Regions from separate parts of the Homo sapiens genome. Here all the other regions are linked to region 3. Evidence: fine-mapped QTL for protein levels in blood plasma. A gene starts in region 3. Each other region holds a variant in brackets. All regions are shown on one strand. Distances are from middle to middle.

Region 1 (8,436 bases), 250 kb before region 3:
TATTCTAGATATGTCTTTTGTCAAATATGTTGTTTTATAAAGATTTTCTCCCAGTCTGTAGCTTGTCTTTCATCCTTTTATAGGATGTTCAAAGCAAAACCTAAATTTTCATTTAGTTCAATATATCACTTTTCCCTTTTAAGGACAGTGTTTTGTGTCAAGGCTTTAAAACTCTTTGTTTAATGTTTAAATGAAAAATCTTAAGACTTTTCCAAAAATACTAGTAGAGCACTTTGGCCACCTAAGTAAGTAACCTTAATTTATTCCATCTGCTGGGAATATACTTTTGATCCAGCTATTGTTTCATAAACTAGTGTGTTTTATATTATAGTACCTAGCACATGGCTACAGTTTTCAAATGAAAGCTAAGAAATCTGCTTATCTGTATGCTTATACATGCCTGTGCATGTAGGTATGTTACGTATATGTGTTATTTTTTTCTTTTTTTTTTTTTTTTGAGACGGAGTTTTGCTCTTGTTGCCCAGGCTGGAGTGCAATGGCATGATCTTGGCTCACAGCAACCTCCACTTCCCGGGTTCAAGTGATTCTCCTACTTCAGCCTCTCGAGTAGCTGGGATTACAGACATGTGCCACCATGCCCAGCTAATTTTGTATTTGTTTTTTTTTTTTTTTTAGTAGAGATGGAGTTTCTCCATGTTAGTCAGGCTGGTCTTGAACTCCTGACCTCAGGTGATCTGCCTGCATCGGCCTCCAAAAGGGCTAGGATTACAGGCGTGAGCCACCGCACCCAGCCATGAGATGTTTTTCTACCTCCAGATGGTATGGTCAAAAATTAATTCATAAAAGATTTCTATTTAATTGATTTAAAGAAAAATAAGCATTTCACATAAATTAAGTATTCTCTCAGCAATATAGAAACCAACACACATGCTTTTCAAGTTCATGTGACTTGGGTAAGAATATATAATGCAGATATACAACTTTTAAATCCTACCAGGATTTATTATCAAATAAGTTTATGTTACCTCCACTACATATTTATAATTATACAACTATGAGTTCAACCTATGAACAATGTGCAAGTGGGTGCCAGTATCCATTACTTCACGTTTTTCGAGTGCAGCAAAAAAACAAAAAATCTCATCTATTAAACTTTTTAGGATTCTTGTTTTTGTGAAGACTGCCGAACATGCACATGCTGTAAAAGTAGCTAACAGAGAAATAACTTAATGATAGCTAGCTTTGTTTGTGTTATGTCTACTCAAAAATAGCTCCCCACTGGTAATTTACAGCCTAGGGGTTTTGTTAATTTAAATGATGAATATTCATTGGATATGTAGATATTTTCCAAATAAAATACTGAAGCATTAATAGTGGAACATAAATTATACTACAAGGAAGCATATGTTTCTACAAATTTGATTCATAGATTTGCCAATCTATAGAATGCTGATGTGACAGTTATAACTAGAATAAGAGAAATGATTCTGTATGTGAGGAAAAGACATGGTTTTGGTAAGGTGAAGCTATGAAGTATGAAGGATGTGTGTTCGTTAAGAGAAAAAGACTAACTTTTGCCTTATAGTAGAATGACTTGTTTCACAGTAAGAGGAAGAATTTAATCCAAAACAGAAGGGTATGAGAAAGTTGTAGTAGGTTTGTGGAAGAGGAATCTTGGAAAAGGAATTTTATGTGTGGTCAACCTGGGTAAGTTCTGAATGAATTTATTTATAAATTATCAAATTAATAAGCCTTAATAATACCAGCACTTTGGGAGGCTGAGGTAGGAGGATTGCTTGAGTCCAGGAGTTCAAGACCAGACTGGGCAGTGTAGTGAGACACTGTCTCTACAGAAAAGAAAACAGAGAAACAGAGTCCTCTCTATTAAAACTGCTCAGGTCTTTTTATAACTTTGTGACTTTCTATATTTGCCTTTGATATTTTTAATTATCACTCTGGTTAAATGAGTGACTGTAGCTTCAGTGACCTGCAATCCTATTAATCAAGTGTTTTAAGCCTTTGATATTTTTTACTAGCTTCCCAAAATCAAACTCTAAACTTAAGTCTTTCTGACCTCAAGCTAACTTTGGGAGCTTTCAGAGGCCCCCTGAAATATCTCAAGAGAATTTTCTTTCATTATGAAGAGAAACAGTAAACAAGTTAGACTTATTTGACTACGTTAGATCTGCATGGGAAGCGCTGTCAAATAAGAAATGTTGTTTAACCTTCTTTAACTTGTACAAATAATGTGTTCCAGAAATTGTGTGAAATTCTTAGAAATCTGATAGCCTGGTCTAATGTTATCAGTCATAATTCTAGTTACCTTAAAATGCTGTATACCACAGAAATAACTAAACTTCCTTGTCAATTGCAACATTAGTATAATGAACTCTCATTAGATATTTAACCATGGCCATTTAAAGTCTTGTCATCCAACGATAGTTAATTGTTTTACTCTGGCACTTTCCTGAAAACTATTGTAAGCAACAGTGAATCTAAAGTGTTTCATCTTTGAGGAGATGCAATGGAAAGGACTCTGACAAGTACAGGTTTCTGATGTTAAGATCACACCATTGGACTGGGTAAGAATTATCATAACTCTTGTGAAGTAATTAACTAATTCATGATGCTGTCACAATGGCAATGACATTTTAACCTGAGTTTTGGAGGACACACTCAAACCACAGCAGGATAGAAGATACATTTTTACTATATTGAATCTTCTAATCCATACACGTCTCTCCACTTACTTAGATTTTGTCTGATTTTTTTCATCACTATTTTGAAGTTTTCAGTATACAAGTCCCAACATGTTTTATTAGGTTTACATCTGAATATTTTTTTGGAGACAAGGTCTCACTGTGTGGCCCAGGCTGGAGTATAGTGGCATGATCATGGCTCACTGCAGCCTCCATCTCCCAGGCTCAAGCAATCCTCCAACCTCAGCCTCCCAAGTAGCTGGGACTAAAGGCGAACACCACCACACTTGCCTAGTTTTTTATTTCTTGTAGAGACGGGGTCTCACTTTGTTGCCGAGGCTGGTCTCGAACTCCCAGGCTAAAGTAATCCTCCTGCCTAAGCCTCCCAAAATGCTGGGAATACATGCGTGAACCACCACGCCTGACCTAGCATCTTTTTTTAAGTGACTGTAAATGATACCACATTTTTAATTTCATTGCCCACTTGTTCATTGCTAGTATAGATTGCTATTATGAAATAAAATTCATTTTTGTATGTTTATCTTACATCCTGTGACTCAAAAGTTTTTTTCTTTTTTATAAGCAATATGATTTCTATTCAATTACTTTGGAAACCCAATTAATGCTTGAATCCAAAGGGTATAGAAAAAGGCCAAACATTTAAAAATAACAGATTTAGCGATGATTTGTATGGTTTTTTCCCTCATAATATGAATGCTTTCAGCAGGACAGTAAATTGCAAAACATATCAAATCATATTAAGGCAGACGACCAAGCTGTGGCTGCATTTAAAGCTATTACTAAGAAAATAATCTTGGAGTTGAGAGCTCTTCTTTCCAGGTGTCTGGTCAACTGACCCAGGAATGGCCAGTCCTGGAGTTGGTAGATGGGAAAATAGGCCCTACCTGTCTTATCACTGCTCATGCTGCTGGCCCTCTGTACAAGAACACTGTTCTTGTTTACATTACTGATGCACACCACTGACCATCCGATTCCTTCTACAGGGTAACCTGAGACAGCCAGGATGTTGGCAGTGATGGACCAGCTCAATGCCATACAACATCACTGAAGTTGCAAAGCAGTTCAGGGAACCATGTACTGTCTGAGACATCATCACAGGTCTAAATAAACACACAACCATCATGGGAGCAGCTGGCATGGGAAGATCAATATGGTGATCCCAGGCCACATCTTAAAACCAGGCAATATGAGCTTTTTTTTTTTTTTTGAGATGGAGTTCGTTCTTGTTGCCCAAACTACAGTACAATGGCGCGATCTCGGCTCACTGCAACCTCCGCTTCCCAGGTTCAAGTGATTCTCCTGCCTCAGCCTCCTGAGTAGCTGGGAGTACAGGTGACCGCCATCACACCTAATTCTTTATATTTTTTCGACAGGGTTTCACCATGTTGGCCGGGCTGGTCTTGAACTCCTGACCTCAGGTGATCTGCCTGCCTTAGCTCCCAAAGTGGGATTACAGGCGTGAGCCACCAAGCCTGGCTTATTTTTTCAGGTGTTTGTATGTATGTTCCTTATGATTTTCTATAGAGTCAGCTTTATTCCTTTCTTTATCTGCATGACTTTTATTTCCTCGTCATGCCGTGGTCCACTGGCTAGAACTTCCAGTACAATGTCGAATATGAGTTGTGATTGCCTTGTTCCTGATTTTAGGTAGAAAGAATTCAGGCTTTCCCCATTAGGTATAATGGTAGCTGTAGGATTTTTGCAAAATGCTCATTATCCAGTCCACAAAGGTCTCATCTCTTCCTATTTTTGTGAGGATTTTCATCATGAATGGGTGTTGAATTTGATCAAATGCTTTTTATGAATCAACTGCTATACTCATGTAATCTTTTAGTCTGACAATACGATAATTACATTG[AT/A]TTTTTTTTTTTTTTTTTTTTTGAGATGGAGTCTCCCTCTGTCGCCCAGGCTGGAGCACAGTGGTGCGATCTTGGCTCACTGCAACCTCTGCCTCCCAGGTTCAAGCAATTCTCCTGCCTCAATAATCCTACTCTCCTGAGTAGCTGGGATTACAGGCACGCGCCACCATGCCCGGCTAATTTTTGTATTTTTAGTAGAGACAGGGTTTCACCATGTTGGTCAGGCTGGTCTTGAACTCCTGACCTTGTGATCCACCCGCCTCAGCCTCCCAAAGTGCTGGGATTACAGGCGTGACCCACCTCGCCTGGACTAGATTGATTTTTAAATATTGAATCAGCCTTGCATCCCTGGAATAAATCCCACTTGGTGATGGTGCATAATTCTTTGTATACATAGCTGAATTCTATTTAATAATTTATTGGGAAGAATTTTACATTTATATTCATGTGGAATATCTGTTTTCTATCTTTTTTTTTTCTTTTTTGAGACAGAGTCTCGCTGTTGTCGGCCTGGGCTGGAGTGCAATGGCACGATCTCAGCTCACTGCAACCTCTGCCTCCCAGGTTACAGCAATTCTCCTGCCTCAGCCTCCCGAGTAGGCTGAGATTACAGGCGCCCGCCACCAGGCTTGGCTAATTTTTGTATTTTTAGTAGAGATGGTGTTTCACCATGTTGGCCAGGCTGGTCTCCAACTCCTGACCTCAGGTGACCCACCCGCCTTGGCCTCCCAAAGTGCTGAGATTACAGGCATAAGCCACCGTGCCCAGCCTATCTTTTTTGTTAATACTGTCTTTATCTGGTTTTGGTAGCAGGTTAATAACCACATAAAATGAGTGAAATGTTCCTTCCTCTTCTATTTTCTGGAAGAGTCTGTGTACAACTGGTGTTAATTCTGGTAAGAATTCTCCAGTGAAACTGGGCCTGGAGATTAGTTCAGAGATTTTAAATTACAAATTCATCTCCTTAATAATTATAGGGCCATTAAAATTATCTGTTTGATATTGTGTGAGTTGTAGTAGTTTGTGTTTTTTAGAAACAGGGTTCACTTCAGGCCAGGAACAGTGGCTCAAACCTGTAATCCCAGCATTTTGGGAGGCCAAAGAAGGCCAGACCACTTGAGGCCAGGAGTTTGAGACCAGACTGGCCAACAGGGTGAAACCCCGTCTCTACAAAAAAATACAAAAATTCATCAGGCGTGGTGTGGCACACCTGGAATCCCAGCTACTCGGGAGGCTGAGGCATGAGAATCACTTGAACCCAGGAGGTGGAGGTTGCAGTGAGCTGAGTTGGCATCACTGCACTGTCCAGCCTGGGCGACAAGCATCCAAGTTGTCAAACTTACATATGGAGATTTATTCATAGTATTTGCGTTTTTGATTTTGGCAATCTGTATCAATAATTCTTTTTATTCCTGATATGCAACTGTGTCTTCTTTTTCTTTATTAGTCTCACTAGAGGTTTATTAATTTTGCTGAATTTTTGGGTAAGAACCAGATTTCTGTATCATTAATTTTCTCTATCGTTTTTGTTTTCAATTGCACTGATCTCTTATTTTTATGTTTTTCCTTCTTCTTACTTTGCATTTATTCTGCCTTTTTTTCCTATCTAGTTTCTTGAGTTTAGACCTTAGGTTATGACTTGAAACCATCTTTCTTTCAGTTTTTAGTGCAACAGATTTCCGTCTCAGGACTGCTTTAGCCACATTCCACATATTTTGATGTCGTATTTTCCTTTACACTCAGTTCTATGTTTCTTTCCCTCTTGAGACTTCTTCCCTAATCATGGATAATTTAAAAGCATGTTGTTTATTTTTAAGAGTGTGGAGATTTTCATTATTATATTACTAATTAATAGTTTGATTCTACTGTGGTCAGAGAGCACACTCTGGTTTCAACTGTATTAATTGGTTGAGGTTTGTTTTATGGCCCAGGTTATAATGTATCTCAGCAAAGTTCTGTGAGAGCTCAAAAATAATTTATATTCTGCTATTTTTGGCTGAGGTGTTCTAACTGGTCTATTGATTACTGAAAAAGGTACTTTGAAGTCTCCAACTATAGTTGTAGATTTGTCTATTTCTCCTTTAATGTCTGTATCTTTTTATTTCATGTATTTTGTAACTCTTTTGTTAGACGCATATAAATTTAGGATCACTGTTTTCTTTGTGTACTGACACTTCTATCATTATTTAATGCCCCTGGTAATTTTCTTTGCTCTGAAGTCTGTTTCATCTAATACAAACATGACCATTCCTGCTTCTTTTGATTAATGTTTGCATAGTATATATTTTTCTACCCTTTTACTTTCAACTCACCTGTATCATTATATTAGAAGTTTGTTATAGACAGCATATACTTGGCTAATGTGTTTTTAACAATATGCCAATCTTTCATTTGTTCTGCTTGTTTTTTTGAGACAGAGTCTCGCTCTGTCACCCAGTATAGAGTATAGGAGCGTGATCTTGGCTCACTGCAACCTCCGCCTCCCGGGTTCAAGCGATTCTCCTGTCTCAGCCTCCTGAGTAGCTGGGACTATAGGCGCCCGCCACCAAGCCTGGCTAATTTTTGTATTTTTAGTAGAGGTGGGGTTTCATTATGTTGGCCAGGCTGGTCTTGAACTCTTGACCTCAGGTGATCCGCCTGCCTTGGCCTTCCAGTGTTGGGATTACAGGCGTGAGCCACTGTGCCTGGCATATTTGTTCTGATTTTCTCTCCTAGCTTCTTGTGGGTTACTGATATAGTTTGGATATTTGTCTCCTCCAACTCTCATGTTGAAATGTGATCCTCAATGTGGGAAAGTGGGGCTTAGTGGGAGGTGTTTGGGTCACTGGTGCCGATCCCTCATGAATGGCTTGGTACCCTTGTTGCAGTAATGAGTGAGTTCTCACTCTGTTCGTTCATGCGATAGCTGGTTATTTAAAAGAGCCTGGCTTCTATCTTGCTCCCTCTCTTCATCATGTGATACACTTGCTCCCACTTCATCTTCTGTAAAGCAGAGTAAAAGCTTCTTGAGGCCCTCAACAGAAGCAGATGCTTGTGCCGTGCTTCTCATACAGCCTGCAGAGCTGTGAGCCAAATAAACCTTCTTTATAAACTAGCCAGCCTCAGGTATTCCTTTATAGCAATGAAAAATGGACTAATACAGTTACTTAAAACATATTTTAGAGTTCCATTTTTTATTTTTCTAGGGTTTTATATGTATCCTGTGGTATAGTCTTTTCTTAGTGGTAACTCCAAGTAGTACCTAACATAAACATAACTTCCTAAGGTCCACTGGTGTCAATATTTTACCGGTTTGTGACAAATGTAGAAACCTCGCTCCTTTGTAATTGTCTTAACTATTATTTCTTGTTCAGTAAATCCTTAATGTTGCTGGTAGGTTCTTGGAAACTGTGACTTCAAGCAGAATGATGTACTATATAATAAACCAACTTTACCACAGGAGTTAAGTTCCCATGGCACACAGTACATCACTTCACTTAAAGTTGCAGGACCCAAGAACTCACTGATGATGTTGAGGCCTTAGTGTATATACACAGAGAACCACATCGAACAATGATATAGTGCTTGCTGGACCCATGAGAGTAATGAAAGTCTATTGAATTACCCTCCATTTTGATTTTCCATTTTTCTTTTTTCCTTCCTGATGTTTCTGGATTCCCTCTTTCATTATTTCCTTTCTGTGGTAAGAACATCCTTTAGCTACTCTTTTAGGACTGGTCTGCTGGGAACGGATTCTTTTAGTTTTCTTTCACTTGAGAATGTCTTTATTTTCCCATCATCCTGAAGGGTATTTCTGATTGATATGGAATTCTTGGTAGACAATACTTATCTTTCAGCACTTGAAAAATGCTGCCTTTTCATTTTCTGGCCTCTGTAGTTCCTGATGAAAAATCCAA
Region 2 (8,000 bases), 16 kb before region 3:
CTAGGATAAAACGAGCAGAGGTGTGAATTTGGCAGAAGCTCAGTAACTGCTGACAAATGTTAGCACACTTTTGTACCGGAATTTCTGTTCCCACCCTGTCTTCAAACAGGTCTCCCCTCTTCCCCACATAATATTATGCAGTAGAACTTCCTGAACGAATAGGAAAGAAGACATTTTCATCCTGTCCACATGATAACTTGTTGGGTCTGGTAAGGACCCTCAGGATACCTGCATCCTTTCATCTTGCCACAGGGGGTAATACTGACTGGATTATGCCATGCAGGCAGTCAGCTTTCACAGGTTAGTGAATTCTGAATGTCAAGGGGATTTGAAGGAATAGTTATTTAAGTTGAGAGATTTGATTCCAATTTAAATTTCTAAAGATTCCTTTTGGCTTTGAAAGAATCTTGAAAACTCATGAGAAGTTAAACCTTTACTTTTAAGATACACTTTGAAATTTAAATAGAATTTTGCAGTGTAGGAAAGACTTTTGGTGTGAACATAAAGAATGGCCATGTCAGGAGATGTGGCCTGGAACAGCAGCTCCCTCCTCCAGCCCTGTAGGCTGTCCTCCTCTCCTCCCTCTACCTTCCTCTTTTCCTTGTCTTCACTCTCCTTTACTGGATGTTATCTTCCAGCAGATGAAAGGGATTTTATATGTTTAACTTATTGGGTAGCATTTGCATTTTTTGTTGTTTTTCTAAAATGGGAAGGTAAATGTAACATTTTTGGTTTCTTGTAGAAAAACATCCACCTCCTTTAAAGCTACACTGAGGTGTTTTTTTGGATTTGTATAGTTCTGAATTAAACTGTTGTTTTCCTGGATAGAAAAGTTATTTTTCCTCTTTTACTTTAGATGATCTTTAGGTGACCTAAGTGAAAGGTCACCTCTTGATTAATAATAACAGCTTTACTGTGTCTTTTAAATTATCTGTATATGTTTGTTTTATTGATCTTCTGGATCAGGTGAGTAGATTAGAGGGGGTCGTGATGAAGTTGCTGCTTTAACTCATGGATACTGAAAGACGGAGCTGTTGGAAAGTAAAAATATGTTGTTAATCATAGGGGTTATTTTTGGCCCAGTTAGTCATCAAAGCAAAGAGAGCATGTGCCCTTGTTGGGAATAAGGAAAGCAAGACTTTGAGCAAGAGTTCCAAGAAAGGCAATCCTATGCAGCTAATCATCAGACAGGGAGCTTGGAAGTAATGGGTTAGAACACTGGTCATCTGGCAGACTTAAGGAGCATTCTACTTGAGGTGCTAGCCTTGGGTCACACAAAGCCATGATAAAGAGCACAGTGCTCATCTTGGTAATGATTATGTCACAGGTGGTCACTTCCTACGTGCTGGATGTTGTCCTCAGACCTTTCTGTGTATTGGCCCATTAGTCTTCACAGTACACCTGGGAAGAAGCTGGGTACAAAATGCCTTGCCTTGAATGGCATGTCCATTCCTGCCAGAGCCAGGGGCTGCCCAGTCTGGGCTCATAGGCTTCACCTCAAACTGTGGCTAAATGCCTGGGGACAGGGTCTCTTGCCCCATCTATCTTTCTCTGCTTTCTTCTGTATAGAATTCTCTACCTCTAACAGGTACTGCACAGAATGACAGGTATAAATGAGTAAATGTCAGGAAAGAGAAGGAAAACTAAAAGTTCATTGCTTCTTAATGTTTATTCTTAGTGGAGTAAAAAAAATTGTGGCTTAATTCTGTCAGGAAAAAGGCACTACATATGGCATTTTATGTGTGTGTAGACTATATTGACCAGATTTACTGGTGCAAAGATTTCTAGTTGCAGTGTATACTGCACAGTTTACAATATTAGATTGAATCGTTATTGAAAGGTGACAACTTTAAAATACCATATCTTAGATAAAGTAAATACAAACCTTTAGGAACTGAGGTCAGTTTTGCTTCTGCAATTCTGATATGGAACACCGTCACCCCTTCAAATGCCCCTGGCTCTATCCCATTATTATCAAGAGGGTTTGCACTCATTTCTGTCAGGGGAGAATGACATGACTTAGCACACATAGGTTGTATATAAAGGAAACTCACAGTGCAGAGAGACACATCCCAAGAATGAATATCCCAAGAAGCGTGAGCTTCATCCTTTAGGCTCATTTTCACTCGGTATATCTGCTTCTGTCTATCTACTGTCCTTTCTGTCAGCATCAGAAAAATACGGCTTTGTATTATGTAAACTGGAATATATGAGAAGTTCACTATTTTTCACTTTGAATTACCATATCAGTGACATTTTCACTCTCCTCCAACCATGAGCACAATTAAGGTTTTGTTATTGTAATAGTGCATCAAAAAAGATCATCCTTCATATAATCCAAAATGTTTATGTTTTTCTGTGTACATTTTTGTGTCTTAAACTTTTTTTAAATTGTAAGTCAATTAGAAATTGTTGTTTTGTTAGCAGAAATATAACCTTGAAGAAATGCCAGTAAGTGAGGCCAGGCACTTGGTTGAATTAAATGAATAAATGAATTAGTATCTTGGTTATGAATTTTGAATGGATATTATAGGGAGATGGCATGGTTATATGATAGGTGTCAGAAATAAAATCAGGTAGAGTTTTAAATATAAGACAAAAAATTCCTCACATCGATAATCTTAAAGCAGATAACCAAATGTTAGGTGCACATTCCAAATAATATCCAAACTAATTTTGTGTATTATATTTGAGTAGCTTATGCAATACATTAAAAATACTACCTTTAAATTAAATAATAAGTTATATTTTATTAGGGTCTGGTCAGAAACAGAAACCACGCTAAGTGTTTCAAAGGAGGTTCTTTTTTTTTTTTTTGAGATGGAGTTTCATTCTGTCACCCAGGCTGGAGTGCAGTGGCGCAATCTCGGCTCACTGCAACCCCTGCCTCCTGGGTTCAAGCAATTCTCCTGCCTAAGCCTCCCGAGTAGCTGAGATTACAGGCACCTGTCACCACACCCGGCTAATTTTTGTATTTTTAGTAGAGACAGGGTTTTACTATGTTGGCCAGGCTAGTCTCAAACTCCTGACCTTAGGAGATCCGCCCGCCTTGGCCTCCCAAAGTGTTGGGATTACAAGCGTGAGCCACCAGGCCTGGCCTCAAAGGAGGTTCTTCAGGGAGAGAGAGACAGTATTACGAAGATCATATTTTCTTTAAGTGCTAAACATTTTGTTGGACATTTTAATTGGTTTATAAATGGCTTATCTAGGCAAAGATTATTCAAAAATTAATTTTGGAAATTATTCTTAATAGTGACGATAAAGTGTTCTACATCTGCTTGTTTGTTATAATTTCAAGATGTCCCATTCATTTGAAAAACTTACCCAAAACGTGTAAAGCATTCATT[C/T]CTTTGAATGTGTCCTTTTGTATTTTCTTAACTTTATTTTCATGAATTCTGAGTTCTGCTAATGATTTGGGAAGATTAAGTGGTATTTCACTTAGTTGATTGTGGGACAGATACAGCCTTCGCAACTTCTTTGTGGTTAGAAAGGCTTTTGGGTGAATCTTCGTTAGCTTGTTGTTGTTCAGGATCAGACCCTTGATCAAGCATAGAAAGTTACACAATATTAGGAAGTGGATTTGATTTACCAGTATTCTACAGTGATTAGCCAATGATGGAAATCAGTACAATTTATATCAGTGGTGTACTAGATCACCCATGTAAAAACTTTCCCAGCCCAATCTAAGCTTTTAAAAAAATTTTACTACTGAGTTAGAAAAGTGCAGAGCTATAATAATTAATGTTGTGCCATTGGTTTAGATAGAAGTGCATCTTTTTAATCTTTGAATAGATAATACTTTCATATGGCTAAGCCTTCAACCTCTACTCAGCCTCCTATTTCCCTTCAGGGAAGTGACCAGTGATATTATCTTTATCTTATCTTAAAATCTATTTACTCTACAAAACTATGTTTAGTGCACACCAAATATACTTTTGCATGATTTTGTCTACTTTGAAAACCTCATTTCTTTCATATTTACTAATGTTTACCATTTCTCCCAGAACAGAGGCCTGTAAGGAAAAAAATCCTACCATGTGCCCTCAGCATTCTGGCATATTTTAGATATTGGGGATATAGTAATGGATCCTGAGAAATGACTCAATCTCTTATCAGTTTTTTGGGTATTTCTCAGGGCAATAAGACAGCATCCTCCAGAGGAGGTCTAATAACTCCAGAGAGTAAAAAGAGCTCGTACCAGTGTGAGTGTGCTCTCTGCACAAGTCTTTTGCAACATGTCCAAGGGTGCATGGCTGCTTGGGTGACCAGCCATCTCAGTCTGCCCAGATCATGAGATTATGGGATGTGGGGATTTCAGAACCCAAACTGGGAATGTCCTAGGCAAACTGGGACATGTTGGTAACTCTGATAAGGATTTTCATTGCAAAATGAGCATAGCTCAGTTCTTTACTCTTTGCCAGATTGTTCAAAGAGAATTTCTGTGTTTACCAAGAATGATGACAGGCCACTAAGCGTCTTCAGGACCTTTTTGTCCCTCTTTACCAATCCAGGTCATCTGATTTTCTCAAGGAGCAGCTCTAGATTCATTCATTTTATGATTTTGTTCTCAAATTCATTTCACAAAAATCTCCCTTTGTTTAATATGCCTCACTGGTATTACTCATATTGTTGTTGTTTTTCCATGGCAGAAATACACATTTTGGTTGCTCAGTAAACTTGTATCTGCACGTTTCCTCATCTCACTCTTGGCCCTTTGTGCTTTCCTTTTCTCACCCTCTGGAAATTCCAGATATATCACTATTGCTAAAAGTTTCACCAAGAAAGGGTAAGCCTAGGAGAAGAGGTGAAACTACATTTTGTTACCAACTGGTAAAATATCCTCGTTTGTGAGTGTGTGATGCCAACTAAAAGTATCTTCTCTTTTCCTTTGGTTACACTGAAAAATGAGGTGAGGGGAATTTAACAACTTGGTGGATCATCAAGATGGTTTGTGAATCCTCTCTTGATTCCAAGAGGTAAATTTAGCAGGAATTATTACTCTCCTTTTAGTGATGAGGAAATGCGTAAAGTGAAGAAAGGTGACTTGCCTATGCCATGCAACAAGTGAGGGTTAGAGAGGCCCCACCACAAAGTGAACCTGTGCGTCAGTGAGATCCAAGTCTAGTGCACTGGGCTTTTATTAGTTTGTTTTTCCTAATTAAAACATGCAGTTGTTGGAACTGCATAAAAGGAAGGAAAAGTAATACAAAACTGTGTAAGAGGTTTTGTGCAGCACTGGTAAGAGCCGCGCCACATGGTGGACTGCCTGCCCTGCATGGTGAGCTGGCTGAGTGATCCAGTTAAACTGCACTCTCAGTGCTGGCTTGATTATCACAGAGCTTCCAATTCATCATTAACAAACAGTGTAAGGACAGAAGATGAGAAGAGCATAGCCATTCAGTAGTAGGACAGTGATTCATGCCACATGTGTCTCATAATGGCTGGAAGTGAGCTGGGAGGGCTGTGATTGTGTTCAGTGATTTTGCTCTGACTGTATCATCCTTTGTGTAAGAACCCAAGTGCCAAACAAGCAGCTAAAACTTAACACAGAGAATTTGTAGAATGTCTAAAAAATAGTTTGATTCTCTTAAAAGACAGGTACCATATAAGGTGATACTATAATTATATAAATGTTTTGTAATTGTGTGGTATACCTACAATTCAAGTATAAAGCATGTACTTTAAAAAGTGATTTACATCAGTACACCTGGTCAGTCTGCTAATAGTAGCTTGGCAGTAATACTACTTAACAGCTGGGGGCTTTCCCTCCATTGCTCTACACCTGACATGCATTTCTCAAAGGAAATCAAGTAGGTCTAAGAAAGCTCCTGATACCATTTAGTTTCTCATTTCCCTGTGAATAACAAGAATAAGTATGGACTAAGTCCCTGGAATGCTCCTAAAATGTAATAAAATAATGATATGATGAATTTAAAACTTTCATAGCCCCAGTATTAAATATGCCATTAGTTATTATTCTTGTGGTTATCTAAGCTGAAAAGGGGTTGAAGAAGTGGTAAACGCATCAACAGGCTATATTTCCAACTTCTGTTGGTGGAATAATGGCCTGCCATTCTCCAAAAGATTCTGTGGCCTAAAGTTAGTGGGGTGGACTGGGTGGATCCTCGGTGGAATCCATTGTGTCATTTCTGACTGTCTTAATGTTTTAGTGAGACCTAACTTATAAATATATGCTCTTCTAGTTGCTCTTTTATATTGATAATGGAGGCTTACCAGATCTGAGCTGCCTGCACACTTTGAAAGTGAAAAGAGCAGACAAGGTGCTGGCTACCTGACCGGGCAGTGTGAGAGCTGGATTTTGTAGGGAGGCTTGATGCAAGGATTGAGCATCCCTCAGTCTGCCTTAAGTATGATCAGCATGCATGTCCTCAATCCCAGGGTGACAGGGAGGAAGAGATGGGCCAGCAGGGTCCACTGCACTGACCCAGGGTGACAGGGAGGCATGGTGACCCCACATCTCTCAGACACAGGAACAGGCCAGGCCTGCATGGTAGCAAGGGGCTAATATTGTTATGGTATTTTCTACCCTGTTCTCTTAGTTTTATCTTATCTAGAGATGACAGACTTTAAATTTGTTTTCTCCAGCACAGCCTGAGAGTGTGGGGAAATGGCCTGGAATAGCCAGGCCTGGCTTACCACCTCAGATGATACAGAACCAGAGCTCTTCCTCTAACACCATGCCAGAGTCAGCGAGGCAGGAGCTGTGCTGAGGGGAGGCGGTGGCGGGGGAAATGAGGTGCTCCTCCAAACCCAATTTCAGACTAAATCAGAAATTTTACTTGCTAAAATCTGGAGACTTCGAAATGATTTTTTTGGTTTGTTTTTGTTTTTAAGACAGGGTCTTACTGTGTCACCCAGGCTAGAGTGCAGTGGCATAGTCACAGCTCACTGCAACCTCTACCTCTTGGCTAAGACTACGTGCACCACCACCATGCCAACTAATTTTGTATTTTTTATAGAGGTGGAGTCTTGTTGTGTTGCCCAGGCTGATCTCGAACTCTTGGGCTCAAGTGATCCGCCCGCCTTGGCCTCCCAAAGTGCTGGGATTATAGGCATGAGCCACCACACCCAGCCCAAAATGTTAAACATGGAAGTAGTAATCTTTTAAATCCTAGAATATTAAAATGATACTAATACAGTAAAGAAAAAATTCTTTTCTTCTTTAAAGATCCAATAAATAAGCCATACATGTATATATTAATCAATCAGATATATTCTGTGTGCTGCTGTTAGAGATTTGTGGTGTCTTAACACGTTTGGGTAGAGATTTCTTACACTGTTTGCTAATGATTGCTGTAAGTAATTGTTTTCTTGTTCATTTTAATGTATAGTGACTGTTACTACCTGAATAGATTGTAAGCTTATTTGAGGACCATTAAACTCAGCCCACTACATTTTACATGGCTATTATTTAATAAACATCCATTGAATTAGACTATTAATTGAATGAAATCTATAATTTTTAATTGACTAGAACGCTGTTGAATGCAGGGATTTTTGTCATTCTTTACAGAAAAGTAAGACTTGTTTATACTAACATAGTATAATTAATCATTATAGCAAAGATACAGAGTTTTCACTTAAATCTTTGAAAGTATGAGGATATATTCTTACATAAAGTGAAGTGAGTCCTTTAAAATCATTTTCTTTGATTTCCTTAATTTTATTGTTTTGAAGATCAAGCATTCGAGTATCAAATGGAATGTTGGTTGGGACTGAGGTCAAACCTTAGAAAGAAACAAACATATTATATAATAGAGAATCATGCTGAAGATGAGATTACTAATATGGTAGAAATATACATTTTTTAAAACCCATGATTATCATCAAGTTACAGATGACTTAACAGTCATAACAGATGACAAAAAAAACATTGTTTTGGGGGAAGACCTCAGGACCTTTTTGAGTAACTTATTAATTTTTACAAGGTGTCTAGATTGGTATAGTTGTCACTACTCATCCCCTCTAAGGTGGAATAA
Region 3 (8,000 bases):
GTAGTGGTCCTGCTTTTTTCCACATCCCTGCCTCAGGGCTGCTGACCAGTCCCCCAGTGGCATCAGGAGAAGCATCAGCCGGGGCCCCTTCCTTTGTCTCTCCTCTTTCTGAGACTGATAAGTTACAGGAGACCCTCCCTGCCTTTAATCAAAACTGCGGTAAAATTAAAATATGAAATGGAGACTTCTGCCTGCAAGTTTTAGGCAGTAGCATTATCTTTAGCTGTTGGGAAGCATTCCAGTTGCTGAGCAGTGGAGGCAGCCACTTTTATATAGTAGTTAGGCCCTTTCCTGGAGAATAAGAGATGAAGACCTTTGAAACAGGAGTTCCTCCTGGTGGTGAAGGTTCCAGAACATTCTGGAACAGGGAGCATATCCACCCTGCTTGAATAGCTCCAGGGAGAGGATACTACCTCAAGGCAGCATCTTCCACAGTTGTCCATCCATGGCTGTTAGGAAAGTCTTTATATGGAAACTCAAAAATGCCTTCTGGAAAATTCATTTCTCTCTGCTAGTTCTGTCTTCTGTTAGCCTTTTACAATTAATCTAATCTTTTGCATTTGTGTATCCTGGTTGCTTGCAAAGAAAAAAGTCAGGCCAACCTTGATACCATGAGGAATTCATTATTTACACTCTTTACCTGAGTCTCTTGCTGGGTCTCTTCCACTGCTTTGTTAATAAGTACAATCAAGTATAGGTCCTAAACCTCCCCCAGTTCAGTGTGCAACTGTTTACCAATAGGAAAATAATGGAATGTCTAGGAGAGAACCCTAGATAGCAGTATTTTTTTCTTATTATTCAGAAAGAATGTAGAGAATATTATATGTCATTTAAAATGATATGACTTTTGGCTGTTTTATTTTGAGTTTATTAATGAGGTACAACCTCTGTTTTATTAGTTTTGGCAGTATTCAGGTTACTCTATTTTTAAACCCTTTAAAAATATTAAATCTTCTTCTCAGGAATACTCAATATTTCCCTGATTTAGACCAGTTTTGCCAGTGTTTTCCACTCATGGAAAGCTTTGGATTTTGGTTTCAAGTCTCTCTTAATCAGAGTAGTGTTTGGAGTATTCTTCCAGTGCTACTGCTATTACTAATAAATCATAGTAGCCTAGAGCTAAGAGAGGTCTTTGAGACTTTCCCCCCATGGCCCTCTTTTACTGAGAAAAAGCAGAGGCAGTGAGCGTCCAGAACTGGCTGGAGGTGGTGGAGCTGAGGGCTGGCTTCCTCACTGCTTGTTGGTTGTGCTTTGCACTAGACTGCATGTCCTCCTAAATGGATTTTAATCTCATAGTTACTTCCAGACAGTAAACAGACTTTCCTCTGGAAAAGCCTAGGTAAGGAGGTTTGGCCAAGTTCTTAAAAGAGTTCATAACATATGGACTGGAAATAAAGCTTAAGAAGCACATAAGCTTTCTTGTTTCCATTTAACTGGTCTACAAACTTAGAAAGTTTATCTAAGTGAAATGGTATTTCCTCTCAGACACTATTATTAGGTAAATAAGTCACTGTGCTTTTAAATCCCATGTTTAAAGGCCCGCTTGGCAACTTTTCCCCTGGGTTTAAACATGCCTATCAGTTCACAGGTACCAGTAGCAGATTTCAGCATATAAATGTGATATAACATACTCCATATATTTCACCGAAGGAATCCAAACCAAATTCAGATGTAATCAAGGCATAGTCTTGTAAGCTAACAAATGAGTTAAAAGTCCAACATGCATTTGGAAACTTATTCACAGTACCATTTGTTCATGGATACTGATAAAGATAGCACTTTCCTTAAAAAGTAGTTAATTTTACCTTAGAAGTATAACTAGCATTCTGACAAAGCATTCTAGCTGTTCTTCCTTTTATACTAATTTTGCCCTTCATTAATTTCTCCACATGTCTAGCAATCAAGCTACTGTCTTAAAAAACAAAATCTACTGCCTCTCCATTTTTATGATGTTTCCCACAGTGCCTCAAGACTTGTGCTTGTAAAGTTAATTGTTTTTGTCTCAAACCTCAGATCAGTTATCAGAATATTTGTTTTTAATTGAGTAGTTAGTTGTAACAGAAGACTATATATCCTCTGTTCTTTCCACTACTACACTATACTCCTTAATGCCAAAAAACAAACTAAAAACATCAGGATCCTTTTATGTGTGTGGGCTTGTGCTCGATTTTTCTTTCTTTTTTCATTTCTTTCTTTTAACAGCTTGATTCTTGGATTTAAACAACTTTATTTTTAGGGAAATACAACCCCCTCAGGTTCTTTATGACTCAGTCCCTACACCATGTGGCCACTGTTTCCTGGGTGCCACACCTCTGAATAGATTAACATGAAAGAATGCTGTGCGCTATTTAGATTACTAGGGAGTAGAATATTGAATACATTGCTTAAATTTTTTAATCTAAAATTTAATCAGAAATTTACTTTGGGAGTAGACAAAGGAAATCTTTGAAAGTGTTAAATTCTGACTGTATACATGCTGTGAAAATTTCCTAATCTTTCATATTGAATATAGTGCTAGCTAAACTATTGCTGATAAGTATTCTTTCTTGGAATTGAATAGATTTCCATTTGAACTTTTCAGTGCCATTTCATTATAATAAGGAAGACATTTATCAAGGAAAAAAATGAATATTCAAATGTATAAGTAAAATTGACATTTCAGTAATTCACACATTTTAAATACACATTAGAAAATATTTTAAATATTGAAAAATATATTTACTGTTTCATTTAATATAGCTGTGATATCCCCAAACTTCATGATCATTATTATAGCAATGTTATTTTCCTAGATAAACATACAAGATGTTTATTTAGATGACTTTTAAAATCAATCATGTTAACATTTATGGTAAGGCATAATGACAGGTTTTCACTTAGCTGAAAAAAAAAGTCACATAATTATATTTAAAATACATTCATTATAGGTAAGACATAAAACTAGAATAATTTTAGGTACAAATTTAGGTTTGTATTTAAATGCTGATTTTTAAGAAATTATAGAGATAAACTTTGGACTTTATCCTATTATTTATAAGCATTTATTAATAACATTAATGTCTCCTTAGTATTGACTGTAAAGTATACATCGATACTTGTAAGATAGACATGAAACATACCTGTCAGAAGAGAGTAGTCCTCCTAAAAGTAGAAGTTATCCACCATGTACTACTTATCTATAATGTAAATGTTCTCAGACACTGTGTAAGAAGAAAAGATGAGGAGGTATTACATTTAAAAGAAAAAAAACACCCTTCAACACAGTCCTGGTGTGGCTGCACCCTGGGTGATACTGGAATAAACTGCTCCCACAGATTAGTCCATGTTAGTACTGAGGAGCAAGATTAAAACTTGTTACTGCTCATGTGTTTTCCATCACTGTTTGTATCGTAGCCAAGACTTCTAGCTAAACTCTAGACGTCTACTGGAAGATTCTGAAGAAGAAAAAAAAAGAAAGTTTAATAATGCATGGCAACTGGCCATTGAAAGTGCAGTCGGAGTCATTCAAGAAATACCTAGTTTTAAAAATATTAGATTCTTAAGTGAATGAATATTTGTAAATTACAATTTCAAAAATTACTCAACCTGTATAGACTAATAAAATATTTATCAATCTGAATAAAGGATACCAACATTACTGAAGTATATACCCAAACTTCAGATGTACCTGAGAAAGAACCATACTTTTTTTTTCTTCTAATGACTGTAGCTATTGCATTATGCATACTTCTCCAGACTTTTTTTTTTTTTTAAGCTTTTAGCACTGCTATAGCATGTCAGGGAAACTATGGATGAGGCTCCATGAACTGCTCCCTGGACTCAACATATGTGATATAACACAGACACACATGCATGTCCAAGTAACACCCTCTTAGGATGCATACAACTTTCCCTTTTCAAGAGAATATTAGCTATGGCCTCACTGACATTTAGGGAGACTTAGAGCAGGGAAGATGCTATTTCCTGAAAATAAATCATTATTTGTACCCCCTTTCCACTCATCCCCAAGAGACTGCCCAATTCTACATCAACTAAGACCTTCAAGAGAGGACAGTTTTCTTTTTTTTTTTTTTGAGACGGAGTCTCACTCTGTCACCCAGGCTGGAGTGCGGTGGCGCAATCTTGGCTTACTGCAAGCTCTGCCTCCCAGGTTCACGCCATTCTCCTGCCTCAGCCTCCCGAGTAGCTGGGACTGCAGGCGCCCGCCACCACGCCTGGCTAATTTTTTGGTTTTTTAATAGAGACAGTGTTTCATTGTGTTAGCCAGGATGGTCTCGATCTCCTGACCTCGTGATCTGCCCGCCTCGGCCTCCCAAAGTGCTGGGATTACAGGCATGAGCCACCATGGCCGGCCTGAGAGGACAGTTTTCTAACCCTAGTGGCAAGGACTTACTGTTGTAAGTGACCCCAATGGTTCTTCCCAACTGTTGTATAGATTTGGAGGCCAGCAAAGAGCTTTTCCAGTGGGTTAGAAGACCTGTTCTCTACTGTCATCAAGAGTCTGACCATCGTTTGTTCCCTCTCTCCAGAGAAATGGCACACATTGTGTTAAGCAAGGCAGCTACAGTCCTAAAGAATACATGTGCCTCAGATGTGCATAGCAGCTGGCTATGTGTTCATCCTCCCCTCACTTAAATAAAGTACTCCTCCTTGGACCTCTAGGCTGACAGTTCCAGGCAGCTCGGTAGTCCCATTAGTGGCCCTCTGTAACTCAGGCCCCATCCTAGCCCTGCAGCACCTTAGGGAATGACGGCCCTCCTGTTTGGTTTAGAATGCTCATATTCTCATTTATTCAAGTATATTTCAGTTGCAAATGTATCTGTTAACTGGATGAATTGGGAACATAATGAAAATATGAACTGGATTTTTAAAATCTTTGTATCCAGAGCATCTAGTGTTTGCCTAAATTCCTTCAGAACACAGTCATAAACAGGAAGCCCTTGGGTCAAATTCAGTTTGTCCTGCACAATGTTTTGTTTCTGAACTGTTTATTGAAGTGTATGTTACCAAAAAAAAACATATCATAATGGTACAACTCAATTAATTTTTACAAAATGACCCCAATCAAGAAATCCCAGCCTCACACTCCATTCTCATACATCCAGAATCCCTCCTCTTACTCCTCAAGTCACAGCCTGAGTTCAGCACCATAGGTTATTTCCTGAACTTTATATAAATGGAATCATACTGTGCATTCTCTTTTGCATCTGGCTTTTTTCATTCAGTGACATGCTTTTGAGATCCATTCGTGTCATTGTGATACACAGTAGTTCATTCTTGTCACTGTATAGTATTCTCATACATGAATAAGCCACAAATTGTTTATATATTCAACTAGATTAATTACCTTTTGGAGAGGTACTATGAACGTTCCTCAGTCTGTCATTTGGGGGTCATGTGTATGTATTTTTGTTAGGTGAAATTGCTGTATTTAAAAATAAGATTTCAACTTCTCTTTAAAAATTAGGCTTTCCCAGTCTGTGATTTCTGGTTTTGCATGGCAACTGTTGTCTCTGGGACTTGTGTTTTTCTCTTCTATACTCACAGGATGTTGTCCACGTCACCCACCCAAGGCACTCCTCAGTCGAGTTGCCTGCATGGCCTTTCTGGGTGCAGTTTTGCCTCCCATATCTAGAGAGTTGAGAGGCAGTTCCTGTAAGATTGTGTTTCTAAAGATATGTTACAGCTACTTTTCCTTCTCCCCACTGTGAGACTTAAGCTAGTCTTCCTCTGATATTTTGCTTCGATCTTTGGTCAGAGGGCCTAGGGAAAGAAATAGGCCCTGGAATAAGATGCTGGGGTTAGGGGTAGTATATTTGGCTTATTCACTCTGTTCTGCAGATAATGTGGTAAAGGTGCAGGCCTCAGGCACAACCCTCCACCATCTTGGGGCTGTGACATGGAAAGCTTTGCCTCACATTTGCCAGAGATGGTGCAGCAGGCACGAACGTGCCATCTGGGAAGAAACTGGAGTTTATCTCCACCCTTTTCCAGGTTATCATTCCAAATGAAACAGTGTACCTCTTCTTCCCTCAAGTATTGTGAAGAGAAAAATCTTCCATTTTTGTTTCCTAAAGGGGTCCTATGGAGGGGACCTAGTTCTTTTCTCCATGCTTTTTAAATTGTTTTATTTTTGCCTCATTGAGCCTTAGTCTAAATATTGAAGAACTAGTTGCATTATAACAGTATATTTAGGAATCACAAGTAATTTACATGTTGCAAACACAAAGATAAATTACAAAATTGAAAAAGTAATATTCTCAGTACTGACAGTTTATGAATAAAAATATTGATTGCCATAAAAGGAACTTTAATGCAAATTTATTTTCCTTTGGCCTTATATATGCTAACCATCGTGAAAATAAAAATAAATTGCCTAATCTAAGCTCTCGTATGATTTCTCACACCCTTTCTAGAACTTCTCCTGGTCTAGACATGGACAACAGTGGTCAAAGTCCAAACACAAATAAGAACAGGGGAGGACCTTGGAAACTGTCTCATGCAAATAAAAGATTGATTGATTGACAGAGTCTCACTCTGTCACCCATGCTGGAGTGCAGTGGTACAATCATACCTCAAACTCCTGGGCTAAAGCAATCCTCCCATCTCGGCCCCCCAAAGTGCTGAGATTACAGGTGGGAACCACCTGCACACAGCCCAAATGAAAAGGTTTGATAGGTGAGGCAGGAGCTATAGGAGCAGCATGTGTCAGGAGTATATTGTGGGGCACACACACACCTGCCAAAAAAGTAGGCAGTTTGAATTTTCTGATGTTCTTTTGCCAGTCTGTGGTGTCCTTCACATTCTAAATGAATTGGAATAGATTGTACAATGTTCTTTTATAGTAGTAGCTACAAGAAAGGCCGTCCACCAATCCATTCATTCAACAAATAGTGTAAGTGCTATGGAGAGAAGCAGGATAGGGGTGGGGGTGTCAAGGGTGCCCTCCCTGTCAGGTGACAGTCACAAGACCTGAGGGCTGTGAGGGAGTTAGCCGTGCCATGCAAACACCCACTTTAAGAATGTTCTAGGCCACTGAATTCTAGGATGTAAATATGCATAACATAGGGTTTTTTGTATAGTAGATGCTTAAAAAAGCTTCTGTGAAGGGATAAGTGATTAAGATTTCATGAGTTTTAATGTTCAAGTGTCCCTCATGGTGGACTAGGCACTTCGGTTTCTAATGAACTTATTTTATACTGTAGGTTGTGACCCAGGGGCAGTATTCAACATGCAGATTGTTTGGAGCATATAGTATTTTTAAAAACCAGGACATTTGATATCGAAGTCCAAATTTACAATGTATTTGGAAAAATATGAGCTGGAAAAACTGACCCTGATGTCCTATGTAGCAGCAATTTGCTGAGCACGTAGGCCCTCCATGGTTCTCTGCTGCCCTGACCTCCTCTTACCCTCTCCTCACAGCTCTTCCTGTTGCAGGGACTGGCTTCTGCTGTGTCATGTGGCTGAGCTCACTCTGTCATCCTACTTGAAGTTTCTAGTTCTGAAAAATGAATTATAATAAATTGTCACTAAATGTTCATTCCGTTGAATTTATGAAAAATGAAGGACTTATACAATTTTGTTTATTATATTTTGCATGTGTCAATTTTTTTTTTTTTTTTTGAGACGGAGTCTTGCTCTGTCACCCAGGCTGGAGGGCAGTGGCACAATCTCAGCTCACTGCAACCTCCACCTCCTGGGTTTAAGCAATTCTCCTGCCTCAGCCTCCTGAGTAGCTGGGATTACAGGTGCAGGCCACCACGCCTGGCTAATTTTTGTATTTTTAGCAGAGATGGGGTTTTGCCATGTTGGCCAGGCTGGTCTGGAGCTCCTGACCTCAGGTGATCTGCTCGCCTCGGCCTCCCAAAGCGCTAGGATTACAGGTGTGCACCACCACACCCAGCTGTGTCAAATATTTTTAATGAATGTCTGAAGTCAGTTTGCTTTGAGGAATCTGTACAAGTAATGGTTTTGTTTTAAATAAATTTCTTACCTCT

The links. PIP is the posterior inclusion probability: the model's chance that the variant is causal. Protein levels are from the aptamer-based SomaScan assay of Sun 2018.
Region 1: its variant is fine-mapped to the plasma level of the ASPN protein (Sun 2018, PIP 0.95).
Region 2: its variant is fine-mapped to the plasma level of the ASPN protein (Sun 2018, PIP 0.95). The variant lies in the coding sequence of ASPN. If it changes the protein, the assay may bind it differently, which can mimic a change of level.

Annotation. Positions count from the first base shown.
Region 1 is chr9:92,230,974-92,239,409 of GRCh38, forward strand. The region is part of intron 30 of IARS1 (isoleucyl-tRNA synthetase 1); the gene reads right to left. Among named protein-coding and RNA genes, the nearest start is that of MIR3651, 57 kb to the right of the region's middle. The variant AT/A (reference allele first, on the strand shown) is at 4,540.
Region 2 is chr9:92,463,034-92,471,033 of GRCh38, forward strand. The region is part of intron 5 of CENPP (centromere protein P); the gene reads left to right. ASPN (asporin) reads right to left here. Exons shown (of 8, transcript NM_017680.6): 3 at 7,636-7,748; 4 at 3,325-3,538; 5 at 1,886-1,996. Among named protein-coding and RNA genes, the nearest start is that of ASPN, 15 kb to the right of the region's middle. The variant C/T (reference allele first, on the strand shown) is at 3,348.
Region 3 is chr9:92,479,174-92,487,173 of GRCh38, forward strand. It overlaps ASPN (asporin), which reads right to left and starts at 3,333. Exons shown (of 8, transcript NM_017680.6): 1 at 3,120-3,333. All of the region lies in intron 5 of CENPP (centromere protein P), which reads left to right.